Regions from separate parts of the Homo sapiens genome. Here region 1 is linked to region 2. The links come from fine-mapping of genetic effects on gene expression. A gene starts in region 2. The other region holds a variant in brackets. All regions are shown on one strand. Distances are between the middles of the regions. Region 1 overlaps ZNF785 (zinc finger protein 785). Region 2 holds the start of MIR762HG (MIR762 host gene).

Region 1 (9,992 bases), 300 kb before region 2:
TTTTCACCTGAAATGCTTTTTGGCTTTTAGTGTGACTCCTGCTGATCTCATATGCATATGTTATTAATTGATTAATTATTAATTGTTAATAATTAAATATTATTAATATGCTTACATTATTACCTTGAGTTCTGGAACTGCCTCACTGCACTCCATGTGGTGAATACTGTAGAAATTATATAAGGAAAAATATATCCTTAGAAATGAGTATTTTTTAAATTTTGAAAATATTTAATTTAGGCCCAGCCCAGTTGCTCACACCTGTAATCTCAGCACTTTGGGAGGCTGAGGTGGGCAGATTGCTTTAGGCCAGAAGTTAGAAACCAGCATGGGCAACATGCTGAAACTCCATCTCTACTAAAAATACAAAAATTGGCCAGGTCTGGTGGTGCACACCTGTAGTCCCAGCTACTCAGGAGGCTGAGGCACAAGAATTCCTTGAACCCAGGAAGCAGAGGTTGCAGTGAGCAAGATCATGCCACTGCACTTCAACCTGCGTGACAGAGTGAGACCCCGTCTCAAAAAGAAAAAAAAATTGGGCTGGGCACAGTGGCTTGTGCCTGTAATCCCAACACTTTGGGAGGCCAAGGCGGGAGGATCACCTGAGGTCAGGAGTTCGAGACCAGCCTGGCCAACATGGCAAAACCCCGTCTGTACTAAAAATACAAAAATTAGCTGGGTGTGGAGTCGGACGCCTGTAGTCCCAGCTACTCAGGAGGCTGAGGCACAAGAATGGCTTGAACTCAGGAGGCAGAGGTTGCAGTGAGCCAAGATCACACCATTGCACTCCAGCCTGTGTGACAGAGCAAGACTCCATCTAAAAAAAAAAAAAACAAACAAAACAAAAAATATATTGATACACAAAATTTTTACATATTTATGGAGTTCATGTGATATTTTGCTTTTCTTCATACATAGAATGTACAATAATCAAGTCAGGATATTTAAGGTATCAATCACTTTGAGTATTTAACATTTCTATGTGTTGGGAAAATTTCAAGTCCTCTCTTCTAGCTATGGAAATTTACAGTACTTTGTTAACTACAGTCACCCTACTCTGCTATTGAACATTACAAGTTATCCCTTCTTCCTAAGTGTATGTTTGTACCCATTACCCAACTTCTCTTCATCCACCTCTCCCACCCACGTACACCCTTCCAATCTCTGGTATCATTCTACTCTCTACCTCCATGAGATCAACTTTTCTAGCTCCCACATGTAAGTGAGGACATGTGATATTTGCCTTTCTGTGTCTGGCTTATTCACTTAACATAATGACCTCCAGTTCCATCCATGCTGTAAACATGATTTCATTTTTTATGGCTTAAGTCCACTGTGTATATATATCATATTTTCTTTATTCATTTGTCCCCTGATCAACACTTAGGTTGATTCCATATCTTTGCTATTGTAAACACGGCTCTACAGTAAACACGGAGATGCAGGTTATCTTTTTTATATACTGATTTCTTTTCCTTTGGATAAATTCCAGGTAGTGGGATTGCTGGATCACATGGTAGTTCTTTTTTTTTTTTTTTGAGACGGAGTTTTGCTTTTGTTGTCTAGGTTGGAGTGCAATGCCCTGGTCTCGGCTCATTGCAGCCTCTGCCTCCCAGGTTCAAGTGATTTTCCTGCCTCAGCCTCACAAGTAGCTGGGATTACAGGCACCCTCCATCACACCCAGCTAAATTTTGTATTTTTAGTAGAGAAGGGGTTTTGCCATGTTGGCTAGGCTATTGTGAACTTCTGACCTCTGGTGATCGACCAGCCTTGGCCTCCCAAAGTGCTGGGATTACAGGTGTGAGTCACCATGCCCAGCCCACATGGTAGTTCTGTTTTTGTTTTTTTCAGACATCTCCATATTGTTTTCAGTAGTGGCTGTACTAACTTACGTTCCCACCAACAGTGTGTAGGAGTTCCCTTCTCTTTTTTTTTCTTTTTTTTTTTGGAGAAGGAGTTTCACTCTTGTTGCCCAGGCTGGAGTGCAATGGCACAATCTTGGCTCACCACAACTTCTGCCACCAGGGTTCAAGCGATTCTCCTGCCTCAGCCTCCCAAGTAGCTGGGATTACAGGCGCGTGCCACCACTCCTGACTAATTTTGCATTTTTAGTAGAGATGAGGTTTCTCCATGTTGGTCAGGCTGATCTTGAACTCCCGACCTCAGGTGATCCACCCACCTCAGCCTCCCAAAATGCTGGGATTACAGGCGTGAGCCACTGCGCCCAGTCAAGAGTTGCCTTCTCTTAGCATCCTTGCCAATACCTGTCATGTTTTGTCTTCTTAATAACAGCCATTCTAACTAAGGTACGATAATATCTCATTGTGTGCTTTTTTGTTTTTGAGTCAGTCTCGCTCTGCAGCCTAGGCTGGAGTGCAGTGGCGCAACCTCAGCTCACTGCAACCTCCCCCTCCTGGGTTCAACCGATTCTCCTGCCTCAGCCTCCTGAGTAGCTGGGATTACATACGTGCACCACCATGCCCAGCTAATTTTTTTGTTTGTTTGAGATGGAGTCTCGCTCTGTTGCCCAGGCTGGAGTGCAGTGGCGCGATCTTGGCTCACTGCAAGCTCCGCTTCCCGGGCTAACGCCATTCTCCCGCCTCAGCCTCTGGAGTAGCTGGCACTACAGGTGCCCGCCACCACGCCGGCTAATTTTTTGTATTTTTAGAAGAGATGGGGTTTCATTGTGTTAGCCAGGATGATCTCGATCTCCTGACCTCATGATCCACCCACCTCGGCCTCCCAAAGTGCTGGGATTACAGGCGTGAGCCACCGCGCCCAGCCACCCAGCTAATTTTTGTATTTTTAGTAGAGATGGAGTTTCACCATGTTGGGAAGGCTGATCTCAAACTCCTGACCTCAGGTGATCCGCCCACCTCGGCCTCCTAAGCTGCTGGGATTATAGGCGTGAGCCACCAGGCCGGCTTCATTGTAGTTCTGATTTGCATTTCCCTGATGATTAGTGGTGTTGAGCATTTTTTCATGTACCTGTTGACCATCTGCATGTTTTATTTTGATTCTCCTTCTATTATGATTATTATTATTAATTATCATTATTATTGAGACAGGTTCTCACTCTGTCACACAGGCTGGAGTGCAGTGGTATGATCACAGCTCACTGCAGCCTCAACCTCCCTGGGTTCAGGTGATCCTCCCACCTCAGCCTTCAAGTCGTTGGAACTAGAAGTGTGCAACACCATGCCTGGCTAATTTTCGTTTTTGTAGAGATGGGGTCTCTCCATGATACCCAGGCTGGTCTGGAACTCCTGGGCTCAAGTGATCCTCCCACCTCAGCCTCCCAAAGTGCTAGGATTACAGGTGTGGACCACCATGCCCAGCCTATTATTGTCATTTTGAAACAGAGTCTCACTCTGTCACCCAGGTTGGGGTGCAGTGGCAAGATCAAAGCTCACTGCAGCCTGGAACTCTTGGGCTCAAGTGATCTATGCTCCCACTTCCACCTCCTGAGTAGCTAAGACTACAGGTGAGTGGCTATTTGGATTCTCCTTTTAAACAGAGTAGCAACTTGAACCAAAAATACTTTTGTTTCTTCAGATCCTATGTTGTAAATCACTTCTCTTTGAACTAAGTATGCAGAAGACTTAAGAAGATGAAGCTGAACAATAAAAATATTAACTAAACAGATTGAAAGAAACTTTTTTTTTTTTTTTTTTAGATGGAGTCTCGCTCTGTCGCCAGGCTGGAGTGCAGTAGTGGGATCTTGGCTCACTGCAACCTCCAACTCCCTGGTTCAAGCGATTCTCTTGCCTCAGCCTCCTGAGTAGCTGGGATTACAGGCACGCATCACCACACCCAGTTTTTGTATTTTTAGCAGAGACAGGGTTTCACCATGTTGGCCAGGATGCTCTTGATCTCCTGACCTCGTGATCCGCCTGCCTTGGCCTCCCAAAGTGCTGGAATTACAGACATGAGCCACTGCACACTGTACCCGGCCTGTGGTTTTTTTTTTTTTTTAAGACAGAGTCTCACTCTGTGGCCAAGGCTGGAGTGCAGTGGTACAATCTCGGCTCACTGCAACCTCTGCCTCCCGAGTTCAAGCAATTCTCGTGCCTCAGCCTCCCAAGTAGCTGAAAACAGCACAACCTGCTAATTTTTGTATTTTTAGTAGAGATGGGGTTTTGCCATGTTGGCCAGGCTGGTCTCAAACTCCTGGCTTCAAGTGATCCACCGTCCTCGGCCTCCCAAAGTGCTGGGATTACAGGTATGAGCCATAGCGCCAGGCCTGAAACAAACTTTCAAGTAAGACTAAAACTGTTCCGTGTAGCTGATGAGTTGTTTTTCCTGCCACTCATTATAAAAATACAAAAATTGGCCGGGCACAGTGGCTAACACCTGTAATCCTACCACTTTGGGAGGCTCAGATAGACAGATCACTTGAGCCCATGAGTTCAAGACCAGCCTGGGCAAAACCCCATCTGTACAAAAAATACAAAAATTAGCTGGGCATAGTGGCATATGCCTGTAGTCCCAGTTACTCAAGAGGCTGAGATGAGAACGAGAAACACCTGAGCCCAGGAGGTCGAGGCTGCAGTGAGCCGTGACTGTGCCACTGCATTCCAGCCTAGGCTATAGTGAGACCCTGTCTCAAGAAATAACAAGAACAACAAAATGCTCTTGCTTTCAAATTATTTTATTGCCCATCAAATTGTAAATGTTTCTTCAAGACTCTTGATCAGATAATTATGAGAAGTCACACAACATACAGGAGATGACTGGGCTTCAATCGACTTTACTTGTCAATAACAGAGTACAACTGAACTTTAAGTGGGAGCTGAATTTCTTTCTTTCTTTTTTGAAACAGAGTTCCACTCTTGTTGCCCAGGCTGGAGTGCAATGGCACGATCTTGGCTCACTGCAACCTCCGCCTCCTGGGGTCAAACGATTCTCCTGCCTCAGCCTCCCGAGTAGCTGTGATTACAGGCATGTGCCACCATGCCTGGCTAATTTTGTATTTCTTTTTTTTTAGTAGAGACAGGGTTTCTCCATGTTCGTCAGGCTGGTCTCAAACTCCTGACCTCAGGTGATCTGCCCACCTTGGCCTACCAAAGTGCTGGGATTACAGGTGTGAGCCACTGCGCCTGGCTCTTTTTTTTTTTTAATAGTGTCTTGCTGTTACTCAGACTGAAGTGGCGCCATCATAGCTCACTATAGCCTCAAACTCCTGGGCTCAAGCTATCCTCCTTCTTCACCCTCCCCCACCATGCTCGGCTAATTTTTAAAATTTTTAGTAGAAATGAGGTCTTGCTGTTTTCCAGGCTCGTCTCAAACTCCCAATCTCATGCAATCCTCCTGCCTCAGCCTCCCAAAGTGCTGGGATTACAGGTGTGAGCCACTGTACCCAGCTGAGAGCTTAAGTTTCTTGCATAAAACTCAGCTGTATGCTGAAGTGTTT[A/C]GAAGTGAAATGTAATGATGTCTGCAACTTACTTTGAAATACATTAATAAAATGGATAAATGAATGGATAGAGGGATGGATAGGCAGATTGACATGTGTAAAACAAATAGAGAAAAATGTTATTTGTAGAATCTAGGTGATGCTAAAGGCCACACAGCCAGTGGGGACTGAGCCAAGCTAGGAATCCAGGTCCACCAATTCAGGAGAGGCTATGTGGTGAAGTAAAGATAACACCCCGTTCCCAGTTTTTGTATCTGTTTTTGTTTTGAGACAGAGTCCTGCTTTGTAGCCCAGGCTGGAGTGCAATGGAGCCATCTCAGCTTACTGCAACCTCTGTCTCCCAGGCTCAAGTGATCCTCTTGCCTTAGCCTCCTGAGTAGCTGGGACTACAGGCATGTGCCACCACGCCTGGCTAATTTTTTGGTAGAGATGGGGTTTCACTATATTGCCCAGCTGGTCTCAAACTCCTGACCTCAAGTGATTAACCAGCCTCAGCCTCCCACAGTGCTGGGATCACAGGTGTGAGCCACCGTGCCCGGCACCAGTTCCCATTAATTATCTTGGAACCCAAGGATTCAAAGAAGCAGTCTTTTCAAAGAGATATTTGAGTCACTGACCACCAGTCCTGGAATGCAGAAATGCTTAGTCCCACCTACCTCTTTTGTTCATTCCTTCAAAAGTTTCCTCTTCAAAAGTAGGGCTAGCAGATCTAAATGGGCCAGAAAGAACTCTCTTAACTGTTGTTTTTTGTTTTGTTTTGTTTTTTGAGACTGGAGTCTCACTTTGTCGCCCAGGCTGGAGTGCAGTGGCGCGATCTCAGCTCACTGCAAGCTCCGCCTCCCGGGTTCATGCCATTCTCCTGCCTCAGCCTCCCCAGTAGCTGGGACTACAGACGCCCGCCACCATGCCCGGATAATTTTTTGTATTTTTAGTAGAGATGGGGTTTCACTGTGTGAGCCAGGATGGTCTTGATCTCCTGACCTCGTGATCCACCCACCTCAGCCTCCCAAAGTGCTGGGATTACAGGCGTGAGCCACCACACCAGGCCTTTTTTTTTTTTTTTTTTTGAGATAGAGTCTTGCTCTGTTGCCCAGGCTGGAGTGCAGTGGCGCTATGTTGGCTCACTGCAACCTCCACCTCCTGGGTTCAAGCCATTCTTCTGCCTCAGCCTCCCAAGAAGCTGGGATTACAGGTGCACGCCACCAGGCCTGGCTAATTTTTTTTTTTTTTTTTTGAGACGGAGTCTCGCTCTGTCACCCAGGCTGGAGTGCAGTGGCGCAGTCTCGGCTCACTGCAAGCTCCGCCTCCCGGGTTCACGCCATTCTCCTGCCTCAGCCTCCCAAGTAGCTGGGACTACAGGCACCTGCCACCACTCCTGGCTAATTTTTTTGTATTTTTAGTACAGACGGGGTTTCACCATGTTAGCCAGGATGGTCTCGATCTTCTGACCTCGTGATCTGCCCGCCTCGGCTTCCCAAAGTGCTGGGATTACAGGTGTGAGCCAACGTGCCTGGCCGTTTTTTTTTTTTTTTTTGGTATTTTTAGTAGAGATGGGGTTTCACCATATTGGCCAGGCTGGTCTTGAACTCTTGACCTTAAGTGATCCACCCTCCTCAGCCTCCCAAACTGCTAGGATTACAGGCGTGAGCCACCGCGCCTGGCCTTCATAACTGTTGACATACAAGCATTACAGTAAAAATTAGACTGGAAAGACTATGCCTTGATTTCAACTTTAATCACAATTAATTTATTCTTTCTTTAAAAAAAAAATGTAATCCCAGAACTTTGGGAGGCCAAGTCGGGTGGATCACCTGAGGTCAGGAATTGGAGACCAGCCTGGCCAACATGGTGAAACCTGTCTCTAGTAAAAATGCAATTAGCCAGGCATGGTCGTGGGTGCCTGTAATCCCAGCTACTCAAGAGGCTGGGGCAGGAGAATCGCTTGAACCTAGGAGGCGGAGGTTGCAGTGAGCCAAGATCATGCCATTGCACTCTAGCCTGGGCAACAAGAGCGAAACTCCATCTCAAAAAAAAAAAGAGGCTGGGTGCAGTGGCTCACGCCTGTAATCCCAGCACTTTGGGAGGCCGAGGCGGGAGGATCACGAAGTCAGGAGATCGAGACCATCCTGGCTAACACGGTGAAACCCCCGTCTCTACTAAAAATACAAAATATTAGTTGGGCGTGGTGGCGGGTGCTTGTAATTCCAGCTACTCGGGAGACTGAAGCAGGAGAATGGTGTGAACCCAGGAGGTGGAGCTTGCAGTGAGCGTAGCTTGGGCCACTGCACTCCAGCCCAGGCAATAGAGACAGACTCTGTCTCAAAAAAAAAAAAAAAAAAAAGAATCCTCCGGCATTATATCTCCAGCTACTGTGGCCCAAGAATATATCTTTATCAAAAAATACAAAATCCAGGGAACATGCAAATATCTGAAGAAGAAAAAAACACTGCAATCACTAATGCATACAGTGAAGAGTTGGCCCAGTTCCAGAGTCCGCTATGTTTGATAGTTTGTGCACTTGCAGAATGAGAGTGGGGGGGGAGTTCCCCACCTGAGGCCACTGTCCTCTCTATGGCCACCTCTAGGTCTTCAAGACCAAGGAACACCTACACTCCAGGTGTCTCCTTGCCAGATGTTTCACCTGCATTGGTAAAAGGCAGAATCCTCGGCAGGGGTCGGTGGCTCACGCTTGTAATCCCAGCACTTTGAGACGCCGAGGCGGGTGGATCACGAGGTCAGGAATTCAAGACCAGCCTGGCCAAGATGGTGGAACCCCGTCTCTACTAACAGCACAAAAATTAGCTGGGCCTGGTGGCGCATGCCTGTAATCCCAGCTAATGGGAAGGCTGAGGCAGAGAATGGCTTGAACCCAGGAGGCAGAGGTTGCAGTGAGCCGAGATCACGCCACTGCACTCCAGCCTGGGCGACAGAGCATGACTCCATCTCAAAAAAAAGAAAAGAATCCTGGGATGAGCTCCGCCCCCCCCACCAGCCGAGGGACAGGCCTGAGGTATCCCCTCTATTCTGGGGGGTCCAGAGTGGGTGCAGGCTCCTTTAATAGGCACTGGAATGTAGGGGACCCCATCTCAGAGGAGTAGGAGAGATACAGGCCAAAAAGCAGAGAGCTACAAGGGAGAGAACAATCATGAAGGAAAAGCCAGTTAGGTGAATGGTTTTCAGTGAAGGATGGGACGTGAACACGGGGCCCTGTGTGCTGGAGCTTCAGAAAATGGGGTCAACCCCCAGGCACCTTTTCAGATTCCTGCCTCCTCCCCACAGCCCTCTGTGCCCCTACCTCTGCTTTTTACCTAAGGCAGAACTTTGTTTTCCTCAAACGCCCACTTCCTTTCCTTATCCCCCAAATACACAAACCTTGCCTCTTCCTCTCCAGGGAAACGCTGACCAGTTTGTGTGAACGCCATCACCCACACTCTTGAAATATATCTGGAAAGTGCCGGAAGTGAACTGGGGGATCCTTGCCTCCCAAAACAGGGATGGGCTCTGAACGCCCCACCACGGCCTGCTGCCACGCGCGCCTCTCGCTGCAGGAGCGGTGGATCCACCGATGGGCTTCCAGGGCGGTCTTGCGCTTGAAGCCTTTCCCACACTCCACGCAGGGGAAGGGCCGGCTGTCGGAGTGAATGCGCCGGTGACTGAGGAGGAGGGAAGAATAGGTGAAGCGGCGGCCGCAGTCAGGACAGGGGTAGGGCTTCTCGCCGGTGTGTATGCGCCTGTGGATGGCCAGCAGGGAGGTGTAGGCGAAACGGAGGCTGCAATCGGGGCAGCTGTAGGGCTTCTCGCCCGTGTGCTTGCGCTGGTGGATGGCCAGCAGGTAGGGGTAAGTGAAGCGACTCTTGCAGTCTGAGCACGCGTAAGGCTTCTCCCCGGTGTGAGCCCGCCTGTGGATAGCCAGGGAACCCCTCTGGCGGAAGCGGCGCCCGCAGTCGGGGCAGGGGTAGGGCTTCTCGCCGGTGTGGATGAACTGATGCTGGAGCAGGTACCTGCGCTGGGAGAAACGCGCCTGACACTGGCCGCAGGAGAAGGGCCGCTCCCCGGAGTGGACCCGCTGGTGGCTGGCCAGGAGGGAAGGGTAGCTGAAGTTGCGGCCACAGTCTGGGCAAGAGTGGGGCAGTCTTCGGGTCAGAGTGTCCTTGAGCCAGGGATTCATGGGGCTCTGCCTAGGGTTGCAGAACTCTGGGCAGGCGACGCTGGGCCACCACTCCTTGACAGCCACTTCATGCGCCACCTCTTTTTGTTTTGGACACTTCTTCAGCCTTTCCTTCTCCTCATTCCCATCCCTGGATCCTGAAACAGGGAAGATGATAAAATCAGAAACTCATCCCTGGATCCTGAGACAGGAAAGATGATAAAGTCAAAACCAGCATATTCCGGGACCATGTCCTGCCTTGGAAGGCAGCAGGAATGGTTCAGAATATGGCGCCCAGGGAGCACGGCTTAATGATAGGGGCCTCATGAAGCCCTGAAAGCCAGCCTGGAGTAAAAGCAAATGCCATGGTCTGCAGGTTAACACAAGAAGGCCCTGAGCACTGGAGATAATGAAAGAGGAGTCGGGCCGGGT
Region 2 (9,992 bases):
GGGACAGCGTATAGGGAACACTGAAATGCTGCTGTAAACGATGGCTGGAGTTAGCCTCATCTGAACTCTGTGTTTGAGGGTACACACTCTGAAGTCAGATGATACGGATTCAGATCTGCCTCTATTATATACTATGGGACAAGTGACTTCACTTCTCTGTGCCTTGCTTTTCTCATCTGTCAAGTGGAAATAATAAGAGTACTTACCTCACTAAGTTATTGAAATGATTTTGTAAGATTATGCATGTAGTGCTCTGAGAATATTCACCTAGCTCAATGTTAGCTTTTTTTTTTGAGACTGAGTCTCACTCTGTCGCCCAGGCTGGAGTGCAGTGGTACGATCTTGGCTCACTGCAACCTTCACCTCCCGGGTTCCAGTGATTCTCCTGCCTCAGCCTCCTGAGTAGCTGGGACTACAGGCAGGCACCACCACACCTGGCTTATTTTTGCATTTTTAGTAGAGACAGGGTTTCACCATGTTGGCCAGGCTGGTCTTGAACTCCTGACCTCAGGTGATCTGCCTACCTTGGCCTCCCAAAGTGCTGGGATTACAGGTGTGAGCCATCGCACCCGGCCACTATTTTGTTTTATAGGGTCCAGAATTACTCAGATAATTGCTTGGATTTAGGGTTGAGATTCTCACCTAAGTTGAGTGAGACCAGATGGACCCTAATCATCCTGTCTGGAGGTGCTTAGCCTCAAGTTTGGGTCAAGTTGAATTGCACAGCTGTGAGAGAGGTGGACTGAGTTAAATCGGTGTTGAACAAGAGCATGGCAGGACCTGGTTGTTTTGCTTATCTTCTATATGCTATAATTTCAAAAATTAAGGTATAAAATTAAGCTCTCTCTGGAAAAGGATATTCGTGTTATTGGAATGGGTTCTGAATTTAATGGTCAGTTAAAGCCCACAGGGAAAGAATAAGATGAGGAATAGGGTCTGAGGGAGGAGGCAGAGTTCTGATGAAGATGATGGCAAGAGGTGGGAAAGTCCTTGGCCAGGAAGGGGAGAGAGGGAGTCATGGTGAATACCCTGCGGCTGTGCTCCAGGAAAGTGGTCAGTCCTGAGAGCAGGTGGCGGCCTGACATTCCAGAAACATGGGACCCTATATGCAGGTAATCCCAGCCAGCCTAGAGACTCTGGTGCCCACAGGTGGAATAGGGCAGAAGTCATGGAGTGTAAGGGACCCCTGTGGGCTTGGAAAGTGATGCCAGTAGCAACCAAGATGAACTAGAGATCAGACTCTCCTCACCACCAGCACGCACGTTCACACACACCCTCATTCTCCAGGCAGGCAGCACTTCCTGAACTGCGGTGTGCCGTTGAGAGAGGGTGAAAGCCCCAGTGGCAAATGAGATGGGATTTCTGTTTAGAGTCATAAATTGTTTCATAGAAATATTTGAATATTTGTTAGAAGAGGTACCCAAAACAACTCAGGCAGCCTGGTGCCCGCATGTTTTGGGTAGTGGCCAGAGTCCCCTCTCAAGCCTGCTAGTCCATTCCCCACCCCCTATCCTACTTCCAGACTTGGTAAGTAGGTAGTTTTGGCAATCAGACAGACTTGGTTAAGCCTAGCTTCTGTCACTAGCTGTGTGACACTGGACAAGTAATTGTACCTGACTTCTCTGAACCTGTTTCTTCATCGGTAAAATCATGCACTTCTTTACAGGAGTTGTCAGGAAAATGCAATGAAAGAATAAGGTGAGGGTGGTTTTCAAATGATGACCTGGAGAACCGTAAATCAGACAATCCAGTGTTTGCCAAACTTCATTCACATCCCATCTTCCCAACCTCTGACAAATTTGTGGACCACCTCTACTTCTGTTTACTTAATCTTGTTCTTTAAAAATTATCAACTCACGTTTTGATGGAACTAGGTGTATTCAAAAGGAAACTTTAACCACTGCCATAAATGAGAAATTATCATGTACCCAAGAGTGGTAAAAATAGATACAATAAAACCAAAACAATGCTGTTCAGTTCTAGCTGGCTATGATTATAGGCCAGGGCTCTGAGCTCAAGGAGTTGATTTTGTTAAAAACAACAACAAAAAGGTTATCTCAGTCAAAAAAGGCCACATAAAGCCCTAATATGAAATGTCCAAAATAATCAACTCTATAGAGACAGAAAGTAGATTTGCAGTAGTCTAGAGCTGTAGTGGGAGGAAGGCTTGGGAGTTACTGTTAATGGGTATGGTTTCTTTTAGGGGTAATGAAAATGTTCTAAAATTGACTGTGGTGATATTTGCAAAACTGTGAAGATACTAAGAATCATTGAACTGTACACTTTAAATGGGTGAGTTGTATGGTGTGTGAGTCATCTCTCTCAGTAAAGGTGTTATTTTAAAATACGTATATATGGGCCGGGTGTGATGGCTCAGACCTGTAATCCCAGCATTTGGGGAGGCTGGGGCAGGCAGATCACTTTTGAGCTCAGGAGTTCCAGACCAGCCTGGGCAACATAGCAAAACCCTGTCTCTACTAAAAATACAAAAATTACCCAGGCATGGTAGCAGCAGCCTGTAATCCCAGCTACTCGGGAGGCTGAGGCAGGAGAATCGCTTGAACCTGGGAGGCGGAGGTTGCAGTGAGCCGAGATCGAGTCCCTGCACTCCATCCTGGGCCACAGAGCTACACTGTCTCAAAAAAAAAAAAAATTGTACAGATATATATACACACACACACATATAGAAAAATTATATAATTTTTCCTCCTCTCTCTATATACATATATATATAGATATATGTATACACACACACACACACACACAGAGGAAGGTATAGGTGTCAAACCTTTTTTTTTTTTTTTGAGACAGATTCTTGCTCTGTGGCCCAGGCTAGAGTGCAGTGGTGCGATCTTGGCTCACTGCAACCTCTGCCTCCCGGGTTCAAGGGATTCTCCTGCCTCAGCCTCCCGAGTAGCTGGGATTACAGGTGTGTGGCACCACATCCGTCTAATTTTTGTATTTTTAGTAGAGACAGGGTTTCACCATGTTGGCCAGACTGGTCTTGAACTCCTGACCTCAAGTGATCTGCCCGACGTGGCCTCTTAAAGTGCTAGGATTACAGGCGTGAGCCACTGAGCCCAGCCTAAATTCAATTATTAAACTCCTTGAGTTAATTAAAGGGTAGCCAGGTGCGGTGGCTCATGCCTGTAATCCCAGCACTTTCAGAGGCCGAGGCAGGAGGATCGCTTGAGCCCAGGAGTTCCAGACCAGCCTGGACAACATAGCGAGATCCTGACTCTACAAAAAACAGAAAAATTAGCCGGGCGTGGTGGCGCGTGTTTGTAGTCCCAGACACTCCTGAGGTTGAGGTGGGAGGATCACCTGAGCCCTCGGGAGGTCGAAGCTGCAGTGAGCGGAGATCGCACCGCTGCACTCCAGCCTGGGGGACAGTGAGGCGGTCTCAAAACAAAACAAAAACAAAAGGGGAGGGCGGGGGGAAGACTTAAAGACCCCTGAGCCAGGGCCATTATTATTTAACTTGGTCGGGTCTCTGAACCATTCGGAGGAAGCTTGGGTTTCTATCCTTCCCGACTGAGCCACAGACCTGAGTCTTGACTCCGGATAAATCACCCCAGACTGTTTTTCTGTCTGTGACACGGGAACGGCAGCTTCTGCCTCGCGAGGTGGAGAGAGAATGAGAAGCGCCGTGTGTGGCGCGCCTGACACGGTCAGCTCGCGGGTGGAGGCCCGGAGCAGAACGCCCTCGGGCGCCCGCTCTTGCAGCCGCACTGGAGACCGGGAATGGCTCCGGCCACGCCTCTGCCGACTGCGGCAACGCGAGGGACAGCTGGTCTCCGGGGTTGCAGCGTAACGCCCTCCTTCCCGGCCTCATCTTTCCTGACTGCATAACGGGCATACAGTGGGTTCCATGGCGCAAGGGAGCTGAAGAAGCCGCCCGCCCCCAGCTCGCCCGGGATCCTCACGCCCCTATAACGCCCCGAGGGGCCACGATGCTGCCCACAGCCCAGATCGCGAGTGCGGACCCTGCGGGAGGGTCTGGCCTAGATGCGAGTTTCCCGCCGCAGACCAGGCGAGGCCACGCGACATATCCCCTACCCGCTTACTGCAGGCCGCAGACGGAGACAGTGCAGCCCTGCGCACTGCTGAGGTTGCCCGAGGTCTCAGCCTCGGCGGGTCGGGAACACGCGGCGCGCGCCCGCGCCCCAACCGGAAGTCCGCCACCGGCCGCTCTAGCACGCGCAGGGCTGCGTCTGTGGCCTTAACCCTTCCCAAGGCTGCGCCGCCGGCCTTTGTCTCCGCGGAGCGTCACAAAGGTTGGAAGGGTCGCGGGGCCTCTGGGTGCCGAGCTGCAGATGCCTCCACTGCGAGCACAGCCCTGAGACAAGGGCCCAGGCGCCCAGCGGGGCTGGTTTCACTCAGTCCAGCCGCACCTACCCGTGCCCTCACCAGATCTTAAGATACAGACATTAAAACCTCCACCGGGCCGCGGCACAGGACAGCAGTTTTACTTTCTGTTTTTGGCATTGCATTGCCTCCATTTCCTAGAGTGCACGTAATAAATACCGCTGGTGATTCCAAAATATAAAGGTTGAAAATATTTACTTTACAAAAATTTGGTTCCCATACTGCTTTTAAGGCCATCCTCTGCACTTGGTTCCCGCTGCTCCTGATGTGGTTGAAAGATGGATGACCCCAAAGACGAGGAAAAGATTATTGGCTCCATTTTTTAGATGCGGCAGCCAGCTAAGGTCTAGACAGGGGAAGGGACTTGCCCCAAATCACAGTTAGAGCAAATCAGTCTGAATCAGGAATAACTCCATTCCTATCCCGCATCCTGCCCTTTCACTACGCCACAGCTGCCTGGCTGCCTGGAGGAACAAAGGAGGGCCGGGCAAGAACGCCATTACCAACTGCAAATCCACAGGCAAATGCAAGAGGACAGAAAGTAAGTTCTTGGGCTCTGCCCTTGTGCCGTACCCGGAGGGGTTCTGGGGTCACCAGCCAGGTGCATCCCTGCCTTCACAGCCATGCACAGCGACACCCAGTTAACTAATGGGGGGGATTATGCCACTTGCTGGGTATGCCTGTGCCACCAGTGCACTCACTCTGTGCCTGGGGAAATAACCACGGATGAATCTGGGGATCCCCTGGGCCCACTGTGAAATGGACCTGAGCTAAAACTCCATTGATCACAGGACCTCAGGGATCTTTTGGGTCTCGAGAACAGAATTGGATGCTACAGGAGAAATGTAACCAGAAAAGGATTAGGATTTTGCCAGTAGAGAAAGGGAGATGTGCTTGCTTTCATTCATTTATCATTAATGAGCACCTACTGTATGCCAGGCACCACACTAGGCCCTAGGAAGACAGAGATTATGAGACAGATGTGGCCTTATTCTAGCAGGGGAAGTGAGATGAAGGAGGTGAGAAAGAGGAAGTATAGTGACTAACCAGGGACCTGACCTAGTTTGAAGGTCAGGGAACCTTGGAGGAGGTGAAATCAAACCCAAAGCCTGAGATAAGAGAGAGAAGGGGAGGGTGGAGGGAAGGAAAGGGCTTCACAGACAGAGGGAACGGGAGTGCTAACAGCCTGGCCAGCTTCCTTGTGGTAGAAGTTCTATGCATGAGTTGGAAGAAAGCTTGGGGAAAGGGGCAGGAGAGGTGGGCAGGGGCCAAATCCAGCAGGGGCTTTTCTACCATAAGGAACTTGGTGGGAGAACTCCATGGGCAAAAACAGGTGTGGAAGGGACCAAGAAGCCCATGTGGCTGGAGGGCAGGACATGAGATGAAGATGACTAGAGCAGGGAGTGAGGAGGTGGAGAAGGTGAGCAGAGGCCAAGGCTGGGAGGCCTGAAATGCCTGGCCGCAAAACTCAGCCATTAGCCTGGAGGCCATGCAAGTGAACAGCAAGGAGGAGAGTGGAACACCAGGGAGCGGTAGGGATTGCGGGGACTGAAGGGCAGAGACTCCGCCCCCAGGGCAGTCAGTGTTCTGCACCCCCTACCCCCCTACCCCACCAACCTCCGCCCCATGACCACTCCAGGAGGCAAACTCAGTATCTCAGAATATCTGCTTTCAAGGGTAGCTGGAGTCCAGATTTCTTTTTTTATTTTTGGTAGAGACAGGATCTTGCTCTGTCGCGCAGGTTGAAGGGTAGCAACACATAGCTCACTGTAGCCTCAACTCCTAGGCTCAAGCAGTCCTCCTGCCTCAGCCTCCCAAAGTGCTGGGGTTACAGTGTGAGGCACGTCACCCGGCCTGAGTCCAGATTTTTTTTTTTTTTTTGAGACGGAGTCTCGCTCTTTCACCAGGCCCGAGTGCAGTGGCACTATCTCGGCTCACTGCAAGCTCCGCCTCCTGGGTTCAGGCCATTCTCCTGCCTCAGCCTCCCGAGTAGCTGGGACTACAGGCACCCGCCACCGCGCCCAGCTAATTTGTTGTATTTTTAGTAGAGATGGGGTTTCACCGTGTTAGCCAGGATGGTCTCGATCTCCTGACCTCGTGATCCACCCGCCTCGGCCTCCCAAAGTGCTGGGATTACAGGCGTGAGCCACCGCGCCCAGCCTAGTCCAGATTTTTATATGAAATCACTTGATTTTAATGTTGCCAACATGTTCAACACCATGTAAGCCAAACAAATCACATTCACAGGCTCACAGCTCCAAGCTTTGCAGCATGTTAGCATCACCTGAGGAGCTTGTAAAAATCCCAGGGCCCTTGGCCGGGCGCAGTGGCTGATGCCTGTAATCTCAGCACTTTGGGAGGCCAAGGCGGGTGGATCACCTGAGGTCAGGAGTTCGAGACCAGCCTGGACAACATGGTGAAACCCCATCTCTACTAAAAATACAAAAATTAGCCGGGTGTGGTGGCAGGCACCTGTAATCCCAGCTACTTGGGAGGCTGAGGCACGAGAATGGCTTGAACCTGGGAGGCGGAGGTTGCAGTGACCCAAGATCATGCCACTGCACTGCAGCCTGGGCGATAGAGCTAAACTCAAGACTCAAAAAAACAAAACAAAACAAAAAATCCCAGGGCCCAGGTTGCACATGATACCAATGTAAAATGTCTGGGGTGGGGCCGGGTGTGGTGGCTCATGCCTGTAATCCCAGCACTTTGGGAGGCCGAGGGAGACGGATCACAAGGTCAGGAGATTGAGACCATCCTGGCTAACACGGTGAAACCCCGTCTCTACTAAAAATAAAAAAATTTAAAAAAATTAGCTGGGTGTGGTGGCACGCGCCTGTAGTCCCAGCTACTCGGGAGGCTGAGGCAGGAGAATCACTTGAACCCAGGAGGCAGAGGTTGCAATGAGCCGAGATCGTGCCACTGCACTCCAGCCTGGGCGACAGAGCGAGACTCTATTTCAAAAAAAACAAAAATGTCTGGGGTGGCTGGGCGTGGTGGCTCACGCCTGTAATCCTGGCACTCTGGGAGGCCGAGGTGGGTGGATCACGAGGTCAGGAGCTTGAGACCAGCCTGACCAACATGGTGAAACCCAGTCTCTACTAAAAATACAAAAATTAGCTGGGCGTGGTGGCACGCACCTGTAATCCCAGCTACTCAGGAGGCTGAGGCAGAAGAATCACTTGAACCCGGGAGGCAGAGGTTGCAGTGAGCTGAGATCGTGCCACTGCACTCCAGCCTGGGTGACAAAGCGAGACTCCGTCTCAAAAAAAAAAAAAAAAATGTCAAGGGTAGAAGGCAGCCATCAGAATATTTAAATGATTCCCCAGGTGATTCCAGTATGCACACTACCAGAGACTACGTGCTTTCAGTTGCCAGGCTCAGCCATGGGGAGCCATGGGAAGTTTTAGAACAGGAGAGGAGCCCAGTTTAGAGTTTAAGGAAAATCATTCTGTAGGAGGAACAGAATGTAATCTTGTGTGAAAAGGGTCCGGAAGCCCCAAGGGCAGTGGCAGGATCCTGCTAGGGTGATGGTGATCAGCCATCCCAGTTTGCTCAAGACTGGGGTGTCTCCTGGGACATGGAACCTGCAGTGCTAAAACCAAGAAAGTCCTGGGCAAACAGGGATGCTTGGTCATGCTAGATTCTCCTGATGTAGTTCTGTTTTCCCAGATTTTTGGGGAGACTGATGCCACAGACTTCGCATTCTAGAAATTCCTAAGAAAAGGCTGTCCATCTCCCTGTGGTGCATTCACCTGAGTCTCTGAGCCCTGGCAGGGCCCATCTCTTCTCCACCCAGCAGAGTGATCCTGGCCTATGGAATATAATTTAGCAGTAAAAAGGAACAAACTACTGATTCACACAATAATCCGGATGACCCTCAAGAATATTAGCCTGAGTAAAAGAAAACAGATGCAAAAGAGTTACATACTGCTTAATTCTATTTACATGAAGTTCCAGAACAGGTTCACCCAATCCGTTACTTTAAAACAATCAGGCCAGGTGTGGTGGCTCACGCCTGTAATCCCAGCACTTTGTGAGGCCAGGAGGATCCCTTGAGGCCAGGAGTTCCAGACCAGCCTAGGCAACACAGAGAGACTCCCCTTCTCTACAAAAAAAAAAAAAAAAAAAACTGGGCACGGTGGCTCACATCTGTAATCCCAGCACTTTGGGAGGCTGAGGCGGGCGGATCACGAGGTCAGGAGATCGAGACCATCCTGGCTAAAATGGTGAAACTCCATCTCTACTAAAAATACAAAAAAATTAGCTGGGCATGGTGGCAGGCACCTGTAGTCTCAGCTACTTGGGAGGCTGAGGCAGGAGAATTGCGTGAACCCGGGAGGCAGAGCTTTCAGTGAGCCAAGATCACGCCACTGCACTCCAGCCTGGGTGACAGAGCGTGATTCCGTCTCAAAAAAAAAAAAATGTTAAGTAGTTGGGCGCAGTAGCACATGCCTGTGGTCCCAGCTACTCGGGAAGCTTAGGTGGATCACTTGGGCCCAGGAGTTCAAGGCTGCAGTGAGCTATGATCTAAAACAAACAAACAAAAAAAAACACTTTACCCAGTTACTTGGGGGAGGACAGACATTGTGGCATCATTAAAGTTGTTTGAACAACAACAAAAAGGCTGTGTGCATGGCTCACACCTGTAATCCCAGCACTTTGGGAGGCAGAGGTAGGTGGATCGCTTGAGCCCAGGAGTTCAAGACCAGCCTGGGCAATATGGTGAGACCCCGTCTCTGCAAAAAATACAAAAAAAAATTAGTGAGCTGTGAACATGCCACTGCACTCCACACTGGACAGCAGATCAAGGCCCTGTCTTATTAAAAAAGTCAGAACAGGCTGGGCGCGGTGGCTCATGCCTGTAATCCCAGCACTTTGGGAGGCTGAGGTGAGCGGATCACGAGGTCGGGAGATTGAGACCATCCTGGCTAACATGGTGAAACCCCGTCTCTACTAAAAATACAAAAAAAAAAAAAAAAAGTCAGAACAGCGGTTGACTCTGGGGAGTTGGAGATGAGAAGGGGGCAACGGGAACTTTCTGGCAAGTGATAGTGATGTTTTGTATTTGAGAACAGTTTCCTTATGCAGATGTATGCATTTGTTTTGTTCTGGTTTTATTTTTATTTTTATTTTTTTTAGACAGGGTCTTGCTCTGTTGCCCAGGCTAGAGTGCAGTGGTACAATCATAGCTCACTGCAGTGTTGAACTTCTGGACTCAAGTGATCCTCTCACCTCAGCCTCCCAAGTAGCTGGAACTAAAGGTGTGCACCATCATGCCCGGCTAATTTTTTTTTAAGTTTTTGTAGAGATGAGGTCTCACTATGTTGCCCAGGATAGTCTTAAACTTCTGGACTCAAATGACCTTCCTGCCTTGGCCTCCCAGTGAGCCACCGCACCTGGCACTATGCTTTTGTTAAAATTCACTGAATCAAGCAATTAACACCTATGCATTTTACTATATAGATATTTTACATCAAAGACGGGGGAAAAAACCTGTGAATGAATACTGGGCTGTAGTTAACAATGTGCCTGCAGGCCGGGTGCCGTGGCTCATGCCTGTAATCCCAGCACTTTGCAAGGCCCAGGCGGGTGGATCACCTGAGGTCAGGAGTTCAAGACCA

What was found. PIP is the estimated chance that this variant, and not a neighbour inherited with it, causes the effect.
Region 1: its variant is the best candidate, but not a certain one, in a credible set for the expression of MIR762HG in thyroid (GTEx, PIP 0.77).

What each region holds. Positions count from the first base shown.
Region 1 is chr16:30,573,726-30,583,717 of GRCh38, forward strand. ZNF785 (zinc finger protein 785) reads right to left here. Exons shown (of 3, transcript NM_152458.7): 3 at 6,931-9,718. The coding sequence ends at 8,835. It also overlaps a transcript of ZNF688 not described here. Among named protein-coding and RNA genes, the nearest start is that of ZNF785, 7.0 kb to the right of the region's middle. The variant A/C (reference allele first, on the strand shown) is at 5,414.
Region 2 is chr16:30,871,210-30,881,201 of GRCh38, forward strand. MIR762HG (MIR762 host gene) reads left to right here and starts at 4,251. Exons shown (of 3, transcript NR_110942.1): 1 at 4,251-4,277; 2 at 4,821-4,909. MIR4519 (microRNA 4519) reads right to left here and starts at 4,114; the gene lies at 4,057-4,114. It also overlaps a transcript of BCL7C not described here. RefSeq lists enhancers at 2,779-3,534, 3,535-4,289, 3,824-4,083, 4,290-5,044, 4,354-4,563 and 1 more and a silencer at 4,964-5,023.